Linked DNA regions of Homo sapiens: region 2 is linked to region 1. A link means that fine-mapping ties the variant in region 1 to the expression of a gene that starts in the linked region. Tissue or cell type: cerebellum. Region 1 holds a variant in brackets; the other region holds the start of a gene. All regions are shown on one strand. Distances are between the middles of the regions.

What was found. PIP is the estimated chance that this variant, and not a neighbour inherited with it, causes the effect.
Region 2: TUBGCP3 starts here. The variant in region 1 is fine-mapped to the expression of TUBGCP3 in cerebellum (GTEx, PIP 0.99).

Annotation. Positions count from the first base shown.
Region 1 is chr13:111,615,020-111,623,128 of GRCh38, forward strand. All of the region lies in intron 1 of LINC02337 (long intergenic non-protein coding RNA 2337), which reads left to right. Among named protein-coding and RNA genes, the nearest start is that of LINC02337, 23 kb to the left of the region's middle. RefSeq lists enhancers at 701-1,722, 6,575-7,100, 7,101-7,625. The variant T/G (reference allele first, on the strand shown) is at 4,432.
Region 2 is chr13:112,583,847-112,591,955 of GRCh38, forward strand. It overlaps TUBGCP3 (tubulin gamma complex component 3), which reads right to left and starts at 4,307. Exons shown (of 22, transcript NM_006322.6): 1 at 4,059-4,307. The coding sequence starts at 4,134. It overlaps LOC124903251 (a long non-coding RNA gene), which reads left to right and starts at 4,340. Exons shown (of 2, transcript XR_007063945.1): 1 at 4,340-5,570; 2 at 6,168-8,109. RefSeq lists silencers at 3,778-3,897, 3,928-3,987, 4,018-4,237 and an enhancer at 4,303-5,122.

The sequences.
Region 1 (8,109 bases):
TGACTTGTCAGTATTTTCACCAAGTTTATTCGTTAGCAACTTTACCCAAATAAGAACAGCAGCTGGAGAAATAAAATTAGAGTAGTTAATTACATTATTTTTTTAAGTTCTGGTAAAATGGTTGATGGGTGATGAAGCATGCATTTGATGAAAATGGATGATTGGGATTTGATTTAGCCATACCCTTTCTGTTCTTTGAGAATTGATGGTTTAGATGCCCTAAGTACTATTTTATGTAATGAAATAACTTGCAGCTTTTTTGACAGACAGAGCAATATTTCTTTACCCCAAAGTCTATCATTGTGGCTTTTGAGCTTCACTTAATATTTTGAATAATGAAATAGAAGAATCTTTGTTTGGCAGTTTGAGAGCAGAACATCACTGAAAGATGAAATTGCTGGAGTTAATCAGGCTGAATAACACTGACATTTGCAAGAGGAGATTGCCAGGGAATTAGGATGGGAAAAATGTTCTTAAAGTCGTACAGAGTCTTCTGTGAATTTAAGGGGTGAAAAAACTTAAAAGCACAATTAAGTTTTCCAGGAAGCATTTTTCTCCATGGAATAGAATTTCTGCACCTGATTCCAAGCTCAGTGTGCTTGAAGGCCACTGACAGCCCCGCATCTCAGACGCAAATACCCTGAAGGGGCAGCCTGTGAGTCACTGGTGTCCATGTTTCACTGAATTCTTCTTTTAGGTGTGGAGGAGTCGCTTCTGTTTCATTTCTGATCTAACACCCTGTTGTTCCTTAGGCTTAAAACCCATCCGGGAAGGCATCTCTATGGTGCCCCAAACTGACTTCAGCGACGGGCTTGAGCCACATTCCCCCAGCCTCGGCGGGTACTTTGGAGTCTCTGTTTTGATTTGGAGGCTTGTTTTCTGATAGGAGATTCAATTCTGTCAATTAAGGTAGAACACCTGCTTTTTCTCTGATTTTTCAGTAGATTTACATTTTGAAAAGCAAAGCAGGTGCTTGAATTTTGTAGCATTATAATGAAATGGAAAATTGTCAATGTCACCAAAGTGATTGAAAAATTTCCAAAACGAAGTTGAATTCATGAAATGTGATGAGGCCATGAGGCCAAAATCCCAACATGGCTTTCAAGGAGACGTTCCACCGGGGAGCTTGGGGAGGACTGTGGAGAGACGGCTTCCTCCTGGGGCCCTGCCACCCCAGGACTTCAGCATTCCAGGAGGGGTTTGAAAAAAAGATGGAGTGCTGGGATACAGTTTCATGTGGTATATTTAATACAGCATTTGTGAATAGCAGATTGTCAGAAACTCTTAGGAGCGCTATTATATCTGTGATTCTGGAGCCAGGAAGAGACATGGGAAATTGCAGCAATTACAGTCCCATCTCATTGATTAACGCCGATTGCAAAATAGTCACGAAAATATTGGCACTGCAGCTTCAGTCTGTTTTACCTAATACTGTTCATGCCAATCAAATGGGGTTTACCAAAGGAAGGCACTAAAACAACAGCCGAGAAGCATTTATCATCTCGATGTCCATAACTTAATGCAGGGAACGCAGTCGGTGGCCGATCTCTCCCGAACCGACCTCCTTCCTATCCTGAGCTTCATCTGCAATCACTACTTCTTGGCTTAATCACAGGAAACAAAGATAGTTAACTTTACAATGTTACATGTTTTGATATGTTAAAAAAAAAAAGCCATCAAATCGTATAGTACAATTACACATCATCTGGTGAATCACTGGGAAAGACCAATCTTGAAAACCAGCCAATTTCTTCCCTGGAAAGAATAATTAATTCAGGAGTGATGTTTCTATTTATACATCTTTTCAAGAAAAGTGAGAAGTTGTACCCTGAGGAAGTTTCCGAGCATGTAAAAGTTGTTTACATTTCCAGGTTTTATGTTCTATTTTTCTAAATCTTTTGTTTCACAAGAGAATTTGTTATATATCTTTATGTGGAAACATTTGTGGTCAAAGCAAAAACTGTAGGAATAAAATTCAAATCATTTTGCAAAGGTTTTTTGGTTTTTTTCCCCTGATCTCCATTTTCTGCCCCTGGCCCCTGCCTCTGTATTAATGTACATACAAATTTATGTTGAACAAAGAGTGACAGGAGTTTGAAAAGACAATGAGGCCCTTTTGTCCCTGGCCTTTGAATGTATACTAGGAGGGAATTCACATTAATTGAGTGTATACTAGGAGGGAATTCATATTAATTGAGCATATACTATGGGCCAGGTACTGTGTCAGGCATTGTGTGACTGTCACGTTTTCCAGTCCTAGCTCAGGGAGAAAGGTTGTCCTGTTTCCATTTTATGGATAACAAAAGTGAGGTTCAGGGGGTGTAATTTGCTGGAGGGCACCTGCTGCTAAGCGGAGGAGTCTGGTTTCTAGGACTTAAACATCCTTCTTTCTTCCAGCTTCACAAGATTCTTCCACTTGGCGTTCCCGTGTTTACTCCCTAGAGTGATGTCTTTAATCTAACTGGTAGAGAAAGAAAGTGCCCTCCTAAGTTTATCTGAAAGCTGATCAAAGTCTAAGGATACATAAAAGTCATTTCTGTTTTTATCTGCAAGGCATATACAAAATGTGCATGTGGTCAGCACAGCATTACAAGCCAGTCAGCACTAGCCCTGCTCTCAGAGAATCTAGACAAGGGTCAAGGGACTGAAAAATCTTACACAGATAAAAAGAACAACCAAGGTTCATCTCATGCCATAGAAATGGAGAAAATCCAGCAGGAGTAGCAGTTGGAGAGAGAAGGTACAGCACAAAGAGTGAACCAGGAAAGTCTTCCTGGAAGAGGAAAATTTTGATTTGAGATTTGGCTTTTTTTCCTCTGGTGCTTCATGAATATATAGCATTAAAAAAACCATGAAATTGTGAGACCTCTGACTAGAGGGGTAACCAATGTTAATTGCTAATTTGTACGTGTAATTATTGGAAGGCCCTGATAGGCCGCATCATTCCTGAGGTAGAGAGACTGTTGTAGAGTGTGTACGTATGGATACGTGGGACCCTCACAATGTCTGTTTGCCATTCACTTCATTCCCACAGAACATAGCCCTTCACCATATGCACAGAAACATTGAGTGTTATCATTGAAAAATGTCTTACTGAACTTATGGGGAAAATAATGTATTTCATGGATTATTAGTGAGATTGGACAGACGTTCACATTGATGACATATTAATCTTCCTTTTCCTTTTAATTCTCTACTTACAAATTTTTCCCATTTTTCTACTGGATTATAGAGTGTATATAATAACATGATCTTTATGTCTCGAGAGTGAACCGTTCTCTGTTATTTTGAAGTTATTTCTGTTATGTTGAAGTTATTTTTTCCTAGTCTTCCATTTGTCTCTCATTTTGCCTTTGACATCATTACATAGACATTGATGAGAGTCGTAGGGGAGGAAAAATTTAATTTTCCTTACCCATTGCTAGGTTCATGGCTGAGGCCCCTGTAACAAAAGGCAGATTAACAGGAGAAGAGCAGACATATCTATTTAATGTCAGTTTAACATGCCACAGGAACCTTTAGAAATGGGGACGTATGATTGGACAATGAGGTGGATAGCCTAGCAGTAATAAACCAGGGAACAGGGAGGCTTAGCAGGGCCTGTGTGTTCTGAATCTTCTCTGTGTCCTTGTCTTTAGAGATAAAAATGTTCCTTTCCTCTGGGCATAGGGAGCACACCTCTCCCACGAGGGTCTCAGGACCAGCTTCAGCGGAGCAGGGTGGAGAGAGGTGAGAGGAGCTTTCCTGCTTCTGCTGTTTCCTCAAAGGCCAAGGGGCTGTGTCCTGGGCTGCTTGTCCTCAACCCGCTCTGCCTTTTTGTCTAGAGACACAGAAGGCCTTTTTTATCCCCATTTCATGATTACCCCTTTTCCGTTTGCTTGGAGAGGACGCAGCAGTGGCACTTGCGGCTGCAGTGTTTACCCCGAGATAACTTTGTCATGAAATACCTCGCTTTTGTTATTTTTGCATCACTGTAATATATCAACTTTGGAAACAAAAGACATTCTATTTATAGCATTCTGTTTTTAGTAACGATACTTTCCATTTACAAAATCGCTGAAAATGTCAAATCCTAGAAAACGTGGCATTCTCACATGTGATACGAACATCATTCTCAAACAGTTGTTGGCCGAAGATTCATTTGATGAGTCTGATTTTTCCGAAACTGACAATTCTGATGATTCAGACGATTCTGATGTTAGCTCTGTTTAGAAATAACTCCAAGAACAGTTTTTATATTTTACTTTTACCTTGAAAATCAGTCAGATTTGCTTCAGCCTCAAAGAGCGTGTTTATGTAAAAGTAAATGAGCGCCAGCAGTGAGCTGCACTTTATTTTTCTAAATGGGCAAAGGGTTAATTTTTTAAAAAGTGTTCTGTGATATCTTTTAGTACTTTTATAGTATTTTGTGTTTATCACATCTGAAATTTA[T/G]TTTTGTGTAGAATATTTAATATTTTTGAAAGGAGTAGTTCAAAACCACTTGTTGAATTGACAAATTTTTCCTTGATATAAAAATGTCACCTCTACCGTATACACCAAGATGCATACATGCATTTCCTACTTCTAGGCTCTTCCTCTTGTTCCATTTATTGAATTTTTATGTTTCTGAGCCAACACCACAATGTTTTGAGCACTACAGTTATCAAATATTCTTTGATATTTTACACTGCTAATTATTGGTTTTTCCTGTAGATTTTCTTTCCTAGATGAATCTTGAAATTAGCTAGTCAAAGTCTGTAAAATTTCCTTTGGGATTTGGATGTGGATTGGATTGGATTAATTTGGAGAACTAACATTCTGATGATAATGTTTAGCGGTTTGATTTTCATTTTCCGTGTTATCATTTTCAACTGCACTTGCTTCGACCTTCCCTTGGCTCTCTGGGAGAAAGTCTTCTGTCTCTCCCCAGCAGCATTGATTCCATTTTCTACCCGGTCCACTCTGCTTTTTGCTGCCTTCAGTGCATATTTTAACCCTGCTCCTGTTGCTTTCCCTATGACGCTCTTTCCTGTTGAGAAGTGTCAAGTAAAACTCTCTAAAAGTGCTTTTCACCTCCTTTAGTAGATAATTTCCAAGGGTACAGTTTTCCACTGAATCTTAGATGATTATTCCCTTTCTCCTGTGTTGCAAGGTGTCCCTGCAGAGACATATTAAATGAGAGCCCTCTGGGAGCTGGTGGTGGGCTTAGCGTGGTGCACGTTGAACCAACTGCAGGATTCCAATCTGAAGGGAGGTTCTCCTGCAGGGGGATGCTGCTGATGGACTACTGATACTGATGGGTACTGACAAGCACCAGGCCTGGAGAAGCAATTCTTTACACCAGGATGAACAAACAGAAAGGACATCATGATGGAAGCCGTGGGTGTATTTTGAATGCAGCAGAAAGGAAATGTTAGCCCCACACTTAATGGGAGATATGGTGGTTTTTTCACTGGCTGTGGGATTTCACATAGAGGCAAGAATGTGCACACTCTCTGATCACAGAAAACTGACTTATCACGGGAGGAGGCAGACGGCTCAGAAAGGCGAGAGCTCTAACTTCCATGAAGTGGCAGAGTGATGTGGTGTGTGTCTGTGGAGGTGGCATATCACGTGTCATGGCGTCTAATAATGTGGTGGGTTAGAACATGGTGAGACCAACGTCTGGAATGGCCAGGCTGGCTTCTGCCTGCATCCCTGTCCTCCGTGGGGCTGTGAAGGGCCCCGGCGGCAGGGCCCTCTCCTGGGGGGCTGTGGGAATGCCTGGCTGCAGGTCAGCCCACGGAGGAGCTTTGACACTGGCCCAGTGTGAGCTCATGGGGACACCCATACCTGTGTGAATGTGTGAGAGGACATCTGTGCGTGCCAGTGGGGAACCAGGATGTGTGTGTGTGTCTGAGGTGTGTGTGTCTGTAGGTGTATGGTGAGTGTGTGTTTACGTGTTTGTGGGGCATATGTGTCTCTTGTGGGAGGTTGGAGGTGTGTCTAGGGGAGGCTGTGTGTGTGCATCTGTCTGTGATATGTGTATCTGATGTGTGTGTGATGTGTGTGGGCATGTGTCTGTGGTGTGTGTGGTGTGTGTCTGGTGTGTGGTGTGTGCGTGTGTCTGTGGTATGTGTATCTGTGGTGTGTTTTTGTGTCTGGTGTGTGTAGTGTGTGTTGTGTGTGTGTGGTGTGCGTGTGTGCATATGGTTTGTGATGTGTATGGTGTGTGTCTGTGGTTTGTGTGGTATGTCTGGTGTGTGTGGTGGGTGTCTGTAGTATGTGGGTGTCTGTGTGTGTGGTGTGTGTGTGGTATGCGTGTGGTGCGTGTGTCTGTGGTGTGGGGGTGTGTGTCTGTGGTGTGTGTGTGGTGTGTGTGGTGGGTGCCTGTAGTGTGTGTGTCTGTGTGGTGAGTGTCTGTGTGGTGTGTGTCTGTATGGTATATGTATGTGGGGTGTGGGGCGTGTGTGTGGGGCTTGTGTGTGTGGTAGGTGTCTGTGGTATGTGTGGTGTGTGTGTGTCTGTGTGGTGTGTGTCTCTGTGGTGTGTGTGTGTGGTATATGTACATGGGGTGTGGGCGGGCGTGTGTGTGTGGTGTGTGTCTGTGGTGTGTGTATTGGTGTGGTGTGTGTGTCTGTGTGTGTGTGGTGTGTCTGTTGTGTGTGTGGTGTGTGTGTGTCTGGTATGTGTGGTGTGTCTTTGGTGTCTGTGGTGTGTGTGTGTGGTGCGTGTATCTGTGTGGTGTGTGTGTGGTGTATGTATGGTGTGTGGTGTGTGTGTCCGTGGTGTGTGTGTGGTGTGTGTTTATTCGTGGTGTGTGTGTGTGTGGGGTGTGTGTCTGTGTGGTGTGTGTGTGGTGTGTGCGCGTCTATGTGGTGTGTGTGGTGTATGTCTGTGGTGTGTGTGTGTCCGTGGTGTGCGTGTGGTGTGTGTGCATCTCTCTGTGGTGTGTGGAGCACACAGTCCCAGCTCTCCCTCTGGTGCCCTCTGCCCATGTCTCCATCAGCCCCACGTGTCCCCCTCGTCCCTAGGCCGCATCCGACTGTCCACGTTGCCCTCTGAGGTCCGGCGCCTCATCCATCAGGAAACTGGGTCTTGGGGCCGCACAGGGGACAGCACCCAGCCCGCATATGCAGGCGGCTCTGGGGGCTCCCAAGGTGGCCTCCCTCCCGGCCAGGGCGCCTTCCATTCTTCCTCATTCGCGGCCATGGCCCTTGCTGGAAGCTCAGGCAGAAGCCCCTGGCATGTCTCATATGGCTCCTGAGGTGGTCCCAGCCCCTGGGACCTGCGGGGCGAATGCGGACTGGGAGCCTCTGCCCCAAGCCACATGGGCCTCGATCCCCACTCGGTAGCCCAGGCATCAGGTGCTGCTGCCCAGAAGGTCCCTGTCAATCAGACAGAAACGGTCCCTTGGGGCCCGGCCTCCTGGGTGCTGCCCGGGCGCTGCCATCCACCCCTCACCAGTGTGGGCCTCGCACCAGTTTGGCTCAGTGAGGAGCACCGGCGAGAGGAGGCCGCTGTGCCTCCCAGGTTCTCCCGGTTCTGCAGCCCAGCCTTCACCTGTTCTCAGGCCACAGCCAAGCTGCTGAATTCCTGGCATGTTTTGCTTGCTTCCACCTGGGACTGAAATTTTAAACACTTGACCTCCATCCTCCTTAAATTCACACATCATGCAACGTGTCTTACAAGAAACCAACACAGGCCGGGCGCGGTGGCTCAAGCCTGTAATCCCAGCACTTTGGGAGGCCGAGATGGGCGGATCACGAGGTCAGGAGATCGAGACCATCCTGGCTAACACGGTGAAACCCCGTCTCTACTAAAAATACAGAAAATTAGCCAGGCGCGGTGGCGGGCGCCTGTAGTCCCAGCTACTCGGGAGGCTGAGGCAGGAGAATGGCATGAACCCGGGAGGTGGAGCTTGCAGTGAACCGAGATTGCGCCACTGCACTCCAGCCTGGGCGACAGAGCGAGACACCGTCTCAAAAAAAAAAAAAAAAAAAAAAAAAAGGAAACCAACGCAGTTCCTGGCCCTGCACTACAGCTGAGCTCGCAGGGCCTCGGGAGCCACACAAGTTCCTTTTCTTCCCTGCGAAACATTTGTTGCTGTCTTGACTTTTTGGGCATCATTGAGAAAACATGTTGATGTGT
Region 2 (8,109 bases), 970 kb after region 1:
GAGCACATACACTAGCCACCCTTGACTCCAGATGCAAGTCAGAGTAACTTATCACGCATTTTAATGTTTCGGATGCCAAGCTCCAACAGACACCTACAGGATCAGAAGCCCTAGAGATGAAGCCCACAATATTAATTCTGAGTAAGTCCCACATTTAGAGAGTTTAAAATGAAAAGGCATGAAGTTAGATACCATAAAAAGTCCTGTTCTCAACCACTGGCCACCAGCTCCCCTTCCCACAGGCAATCAACGTTATCAGGTTCTTGTGAAATCACAGGCGATTCCAATGCATGGCTCTAGTTGAAAAGCAATGCTCTAAAACAACAAAAACATTACTCTAGATGCGTGGTTCTCAAACTCTTTGGTCTCAGGGCTTCTTTACACTATTACGATTGAGAACTCCAAAAAGCTTTTGTTTATGTAGGTTATATCTATCCACAGTTACCATATTAGAAATTTAAGCCAAAACAATTTTTAAATTTTAACTTATTGAAAAATAGTAAATCCATCAAGTACAACTTGAAACAAAGCCTGAAACTCTGAAGTTTTAATACACATCTAATGTATATCTTAATATACATGTAATACACATTGATCTTCCCAAGAATGTAATTATATAACCAAAGGAAGATCACATGGTATTTGGAACTTCATCAAAAGCTCTTTACCATTTTGGAAAATCATGAAACCAATAGCAACACCACTTGTGGTACTGAATCACCAAAACAATAATCCTTTATCTTCTGATAGTGGCTTGTAGGACACTCATAGAGGTCTTGCATATTATGGCAATCATCTTCGAATATGCTGTGTACTGTAGTCATACCTGAACATTTATGATGAAATACTTATCTAATATAAATTCCTCTTTATGTATTCTTTACCTCATAGTTAGAAAAAGGATTACAAAGTAGCTATGAAAAGAAGTGTTACCTCTGACAGATTTGAACATTAACATCAAGCACACTGTTTCCAATGATAAGAATAATTACGCAAAGACATAATAAATAAATGTGCTCCCAGGAGGGGCAGGGATATGGAGACAGGATTTGACTATGACTGGCTGGCAGTATGTGTTTCAAGCAAATTCACAGATGTTATAAGTTGGAAAAGGTGGTAAATCATGGTCATGCTAACTTTGTAAAACTGTCAAGCACCATTATATGTAGGTGCTTTGCTTCTGAAGGTCCCTTGAAGTCAACTGTATAATTTTTTAAAAGATACCTTATAAAAATGTGATTCATATGAAATTCTCATTAAAAGTAACAAGTACCTATTATGCCTTGATTTCATAGTACTAAAAAAAATGTATTACAAAAGCATAAGGCCAATTGTAATATGTCATCAAAGAATAAGGTAATTAATCAAATATTCTATGGAGTTACCAGATAAAATGCTCACTAATCAAATTTTTAACACCAAATATTGTAAAGGTAGTAATTAATATTGCTCCTTTGCTCACTAAGGTATAACAAATGAAAGAACAAGGTAAGCTACTATTTATAAATTCTTCAGTAAATAGCAGCATAATTTAAAATTATATCATAAATGCTTGACAATCCTAGCTATCTAGAACATAGCAAAAAGAGCATCACCTTTAATGGACTTCATGACATAATTTATTCAGAGAGGGCCGGGCGCAGTGGCTCGTGCCTGTAATCCCAGCACTTTGGGAGGCCAAGCGGCAGGGGGGTGGGGTGCAGATCACTTGAGGTCAGGAGTTGGAGACCAGCCTGGCCACATGGTGAAACCCCATCTCTACTAAAAACACAAAAATTAGCCAGGAGTGCTGGCATACACCTGTAATCCCAACTACTTGGGGGGCTGATGCAGGAGAATCACTTGAAGGAGGCAGAGGTTGCAGTGAGCCCAGATCATGCCACTGCACTCCAGCCTAGGTGACAGAGCAAGACTCCATCTCAAATAAATAAATAAATAAATTATTTATTCAGAGAGGACCCTGTCAGGATCTGAGAGCCCACTTTTAGACACAGTTCTAAATGGGAAGATAGTAGGATACAGAATTTTGCTGAAAAGAAGCTTTTCAGTCTCTTAGAAGGGACAAAACTTTTATATCAAAGAATCTTCAATGTAAAAAAAAAAAAGTTTTTGGCTGGGCGCGGTGGCTCACACCTCTAATCCCAGCACTTCGGGAGGCCGAGGCGGGTGCATCACGAGGTCAGGAGATCGAAACCATCCTGGCTAACACAGTGAAACCCCGTCTCTACTAAAAATACAAAAAATGAGCCAGGCGTGGTGGCGGGCGCCTGTAGTCCCAGCTACTCGGGAGGCTGAGGCAGGAGAATGGCATGAACCCGGAAGGTAGAGCTTGGCAGTGAGCCGAGATCACACCACTGCACTCCAGCCTGGGCGACCAGAGTGAGACTCTGTCTCAAAAAAAAAAAAAAGTTCTTAGGTTGAGAAATATCATTCTAGCTCATGATGAATGAATTTCAAAATCCAATTATAACAATGGGAATGTATGAATGTGTGGTTTATCCCTAGAAAAAAAAACTCTGGAACCACTGGTATAAGGAAAACACTGACATTAAGGTGGGTAAGTCCTAACAATCTTAGTTTTATCTGATTCCCCCTATGACGAGGAACATGAAACATGTGAAAGGAAACTCAGTCTGCTAATGACAAAAACAAACGATGGCAGGCCATGCTCATACCTCAAGACCTTTCCACTGGTTCTCTCTACTCAGAACCTTCCCCAGATGTTCAAATGGCCCTCCCTTACTCCATTCAGGTCTCTTTAAATATCTCAGAGGCTTTCCCTCACCTGCCTCTTCCCTCTCTATTCCTTTACCCTACTTTTTCGCCACAGTACTTATTGCTAATTAACATGGCTGGTTTATCATCTGTCTCTTCCAGTAGAGTGTCTGTCAGATCTGTGGGAGGAATGACTTGTGCATCTGCATCACCAGCACTTAGCACAGTTCCCGGGGGGAACTTTGAGGACGGGGTTGTCCTCAAAGATTTCTTAGATAAATAAAGTGATAGAATCAAACTTTACAAGATGCAGCAAGAACTGTGTGAAGTCACTCATTTAATAGCGACACAAAATTATTCATGATTGCCCCAAGATTATCATAGAACATCCAATGAATTATGTACAGTAATTGTCATGAAGCATGAAAGGTCAAAATGCATTCTCAGTACTTTAAATGTAACTTTGAAGTCTTCCTTCAAAAATTGAGTAACTTCTTTTCCACATTTTGGTGCTTAAGATGTAACTCAGTTGCTTCCATTACTCAGAAAATTCCCTCATGGTGCATCCTCACTCTCTGCCCCACCAACCTGGCCAAAACAAGGAGCAAGAAATGGCATCCTGTACCATTTCTTTCAAAGTACCTCGACTACAAAATGGTTTTACCTACCGTATAGGATTAGTTTTGCTTATTAGTAACAATATTCGCCATGTGAACTTTCCCAGAATAGTTTTATATCAAATCCAACCTTCAACCCTTTAAACAGTAGGAAAACACGGCAGTTACAGTCGTTAACACCCTCTTCCCATAATACTCAAGCCTGTTAAACTTTCCTAACGAAAAGGGACGATGATGTGACACTCCAGCACCCCGCATCCACCTCCGCGGCGCAGCCGCTCTCTCCACCCCACAGGATGAACCCAAAGGCGCGCAGAGGCGCCCTCCCACGGCGCGTGACACCAGAGAAGGGGGATAAATTGGCGAGCTGGCATTCCTCCCGTCCTCACTGACGGACCCGCGAGCGGAGTGAGCGGTGACTCAGCCCGCTCCGGCTCGGCTCCGCCCTCCCGCCTCCCGCCCCGGCGTTCTCGCCCCGGCCTTGGCCTCTCCACTCCCTCCGCCCCGGTCCTGGCCCCCAGCCCTCCGCTGTCCTCCCCGGCTCCCTGACCCTCGAACCCCAGCCCTCCGCTCCCTCGTCCGGGCCCCACGTCCTCGGCCCGTCCCCCAGCCCTCTGCCCGGCCCTGCATCCTCGTTCCTCCAGCCCCGGAACGTATTAGGGCTGCACGCGCAGGGAGCAGCCCCCGGGACGGGTCTGCGGGCTTCGCGTCGCCCGGCCACTCTACCTTCGCTCCTGCCCAGGATCCTGCAGCACAGGTTCTGCAGCAGAACGTTCGGCGACTTCTGGTCCGGGGTCGCCATCCTCGCCCGGAGCCGTGCACGGTGGTCCGGGCAGAGCCGCCACTGCCGCCGCACGCGCAGGGACCGCGGCCCGCGCCCTTCCTGCGCCCCGCAAGCTCCCTGCTCCTGACAGGCTAAGGCGCGGGCGCCGCCGGCCACCAGGGCGCCATTTTAACGGAACCCGCCGAAAGCGCGGGCGCTTCCCACAATGCCCCGCTTCTTCCCTGCGCCGCGGCCGCGCGTGCGGCTGCCTAAGCGTTCCCGGCCCTGTCTGGTGCATTCCCCCTGCTGCTGCCCGGTCGGCCGAGAAAGTTCCGGGCGACAGGTGGCCCGAGGCCCTCGAGCTGCGCGGACAGAGCGGCCCCGGAGTCGCGAGCGTGACGGGCTTGCTTGGAGGGCACTTGGTGGCCGGTAGCACCATAAAGGCCATAATTTGGTGTGTGGGTGTGGGGGTGTGTGTGTTAACGGCATTGGTTTGATTCACACTTCTGATGAAAGAAGCCTGTTTAAAAAAGAAAAGAAAAAAGAAGCCTGTTTAAAGGGTGCAGGGTGTTACGATTGTTAACGTGCAGTGGGCAGTTCACCTGCTACGCTATCCAACAGGCGCCCTGCTCAGGCCCGACCTCGCACTGCCGCGCGGGCCGGTCCCCCCCGGCCCGGGTAACTGGGACGTCCTGGGAAAATAAATTAATCACGTACGGAGTGAGAGAACAGGAAACCTGCCGAGAAAAAGATCGATAAGCAGACAATTACACCAAGCCAACTTCAGTGCAATCGTTAAAGCTTACACATGGGTGCACGCTTGGGAGCCGTGAGCTACCATGTTAAAAGGCCAACTTCCTAAGGAAAAATGATGGAAAGAGATCCCGAGATCCTATGAAATGGAAGAGGGAGGACAACCCAGCTATCCCAACATCCCAGCTGAGGCCAGCCACACACGTGACTGTCTGCAAAGCCCGTCGGGCCTGGGTCCAGCTCAGGTTGCAGAATTGTTGGCAAGTAAAACGTTTGTTGTCGTTCTGACTCAAAAACATGGAGACAAAGCAGACTTGTAGGGTATTACAGTCAACAACTAGACCCTACAGCTAAAGGACTGTCTCCTTGCATGATGCAACAACCATCACAGCTCTGCAAGAGCAACCAAACCACCAAGGATGCGATCACCCCTCACTGCCTTCGATACGCATTCTGTGGAAACGCTTCTAAACTTGCATCACACTCAACACGATCAGTTAGTAACTGGCTTCTCATGAAGTTATTCTCTCAGCCGCATACTACAATGTCCAGATGTCATCTAAATCCTGCCACCCTCTCCCCCACCTTCAGCTGAAACGCTGCATGACTGCATCATCTTACCTGACCAGCTCTCTCCTAGGACAGACATGCAAGAACCCCCCTCACTAACGCTGATGTTATTTGGTTTACAGATGGCTCTTACTTAAAGATGCAGCTGGAAGGTATTACACTGGTTATGCCATAGCGTCTTTGCCCAAAGAAATAGAAAGTGCTTGTCTTCCAGGAGCAATCATCTCAACAAGCAAAGTTAATAGCATTAATTAGAGCCTGTCAGTTGGCAAAAGGAATAACTGCTAATCTTTATACCAATAGCAGGTATGCTTATAGAGTAGCTCATAACTTTGGAATGCTATGGAGACAAAGGATTTTTAACCTTTTCTAGTCAGCCCACAAAAAAATGGGTGCCTTGTTTCAGAATTATGGCAAGCCATACTATTGCCAAAATCATTAGCCATTATCAAGATTCCAGGCCATTCAAAGACACTCAAAAAAGCAAGATAAGCCAGTTAGCAGGTAGTATAGCAAACAGGGTGGCCATAAACATATCTGAACAAAAAGATCAAACCATTTTGGCCTTTAAGGAAGTTAGATTTTTATGTAAAATTAGCTCAATCTAAATCTCCAAAAACAGGACGAGAAAATTGGGAAACAAAAGTGGCACATGCGCTTCTGAGACTGATGTACGGTTTGACCAAATGTTCTACTCATACTTCCAACTAAGTTACAACCATCTTTCTTTTTTTTTTTTTCTTTTTCAGATGGAGTCTCGCTCTGTTGCCCAGGCTGGAGTGCAATGGCGTGAACTCCACCTCCTGGGTTCACGCAATTCTCCTGCCTCAGCCTCTTGACTAGCTGGGACTACAGGCACCCGCCACCATGCCGGGCTAATTTTTTGTATTTTTAGTAGAGACGGGGTTACACTCTGTTAGCCAGAATGGTCTCGATCTCCTGACCTCGTGATGTGCCCGCCTCGGCCTCCCAAAGTGCTGGGATTACAGGCGTGAGCCACCGCGCCCGGTCCAGCCATCTTTCTTAACGTGCATACACGATGTGACTCACTGGAGCCCTGATAAGATTATTGATTTCTTGAGGAGAACAATGTTGTCGGAAACCTTCTCCAACTGTTGCTCACGGGTATACAGTCAGGGCTGTCTTCCCAGAATATAATGCAAGGAAACCTTGACCCAGTTCTCCATGTCATTTTCCTTTACCAGAAGGCCCTTTCGAGGTATGGCAACTAGATTTTTTCAGCTACCACCATCACAAAGATACAGGCACATCCTAGTGATGGTTTGTGTATTTTCTCATGGGTAGAAGCATTTCCATGCAGAAGAGCAGCAGCCTTGGCGGTAAGTAAAATTATCTTAGAGAAAATTATTCCGATTTGGGGAGTTCCTCAAGAACTTTATAGCAACAGAGGCACTCATTTCACTGCACAAATAATCCAGTTAGTATGCAAAATCTGGCCCATTTTCCAGCATTTCCATTGTGCCTATCACCCCAGTCATCTGGGTTAGTAGAATGCACAAGCAGAATAATCAAAACTCATTTGGCAAAATTAACTGAAGTTTTAAAACTCCCTTGACTGGAAGCTCTTTCTTGTTTTTGCTTCACCTAAGATCAGCCCTTATGGGTAAACACCAACTGTCTTCATCTGAAATTATAACGGACAGACCTATGAAATTGTCTCCAGGAAATTGTAAATCGATGATATTAAAAAGGGACAGGTTGTATTATTGCAGCAGCCTCATAAGGCACCTAAGTAAAAACTGTTATTTAGTAAAAGATTCTTTCCACAGTGAGCTCCAAGAAGCAAAAACTCAAGGAACACATACTTCAGCCAGGAGACTTTGTAGGAAACAGCATCCTTTAAAGGACTTTCTCCACCAAGGAGGAAGGAACCTTATCAGGGACTCCTAACCAACCCTTGTGCCACTAAGCTTAAAGGAGTTGATTCCTGGATACCTGCCACCCATGCAAGGAAAGCTGCTTTGTCAATTTGGACTTCATCTCAAATTGGTGATCTAAAACTAAAACTCTCCAGAACCAACAAGGATGAGAAGAAAACAACATGTGAGGCGATCAGCCTTCTCAAGACACCTGACCAGGCCTGTATCTAGACAAACCCTTAATATAATCATCGTCAGTAGATGAGGAAGGTCTTCCTTTACAAGTTCCCACCACACTTCCTTCTTTTTGTCCCTAGTTCTTCTGTTTTGTTGCTACCATCACCAGCCATTGCCCATGAAACAAACATCTTCTTGCAGTAGGCTTGGGCCTGTGCTAGTAAATTACAGGACAACACTCGTTAGGTGTGTGGCCTTGCGCCCCTTTCTGGTGGTTCTGGCCTACCATGGTGGCAGCTCCTCTTCAAGGACAAGAGTAGACAGAATATCAGAAATGTGTCTGTGTTTCTCAGGACAGTCATTGGTGCTTAGCACTAGTATGATGAAGGCAAGTGTGCATCACTGGCCTATGAATGATACTTTACAAAGCAAAAGCCATAGGAAGAGCTTTCCAGTAAAAGTCCACATACCTTAATGCTGGTACTACACCAGCTGAGAGATTAGACCACTCAATATCGGGATGGCATAACACAAACTTGGGATGGTTTCACCTGACTTACCCTCTCTTTGGGTCAACTTAGTTCACGTGCCCCTTTACATTGGGAACAAAAGAATCATATCAAAGATCCCTGGC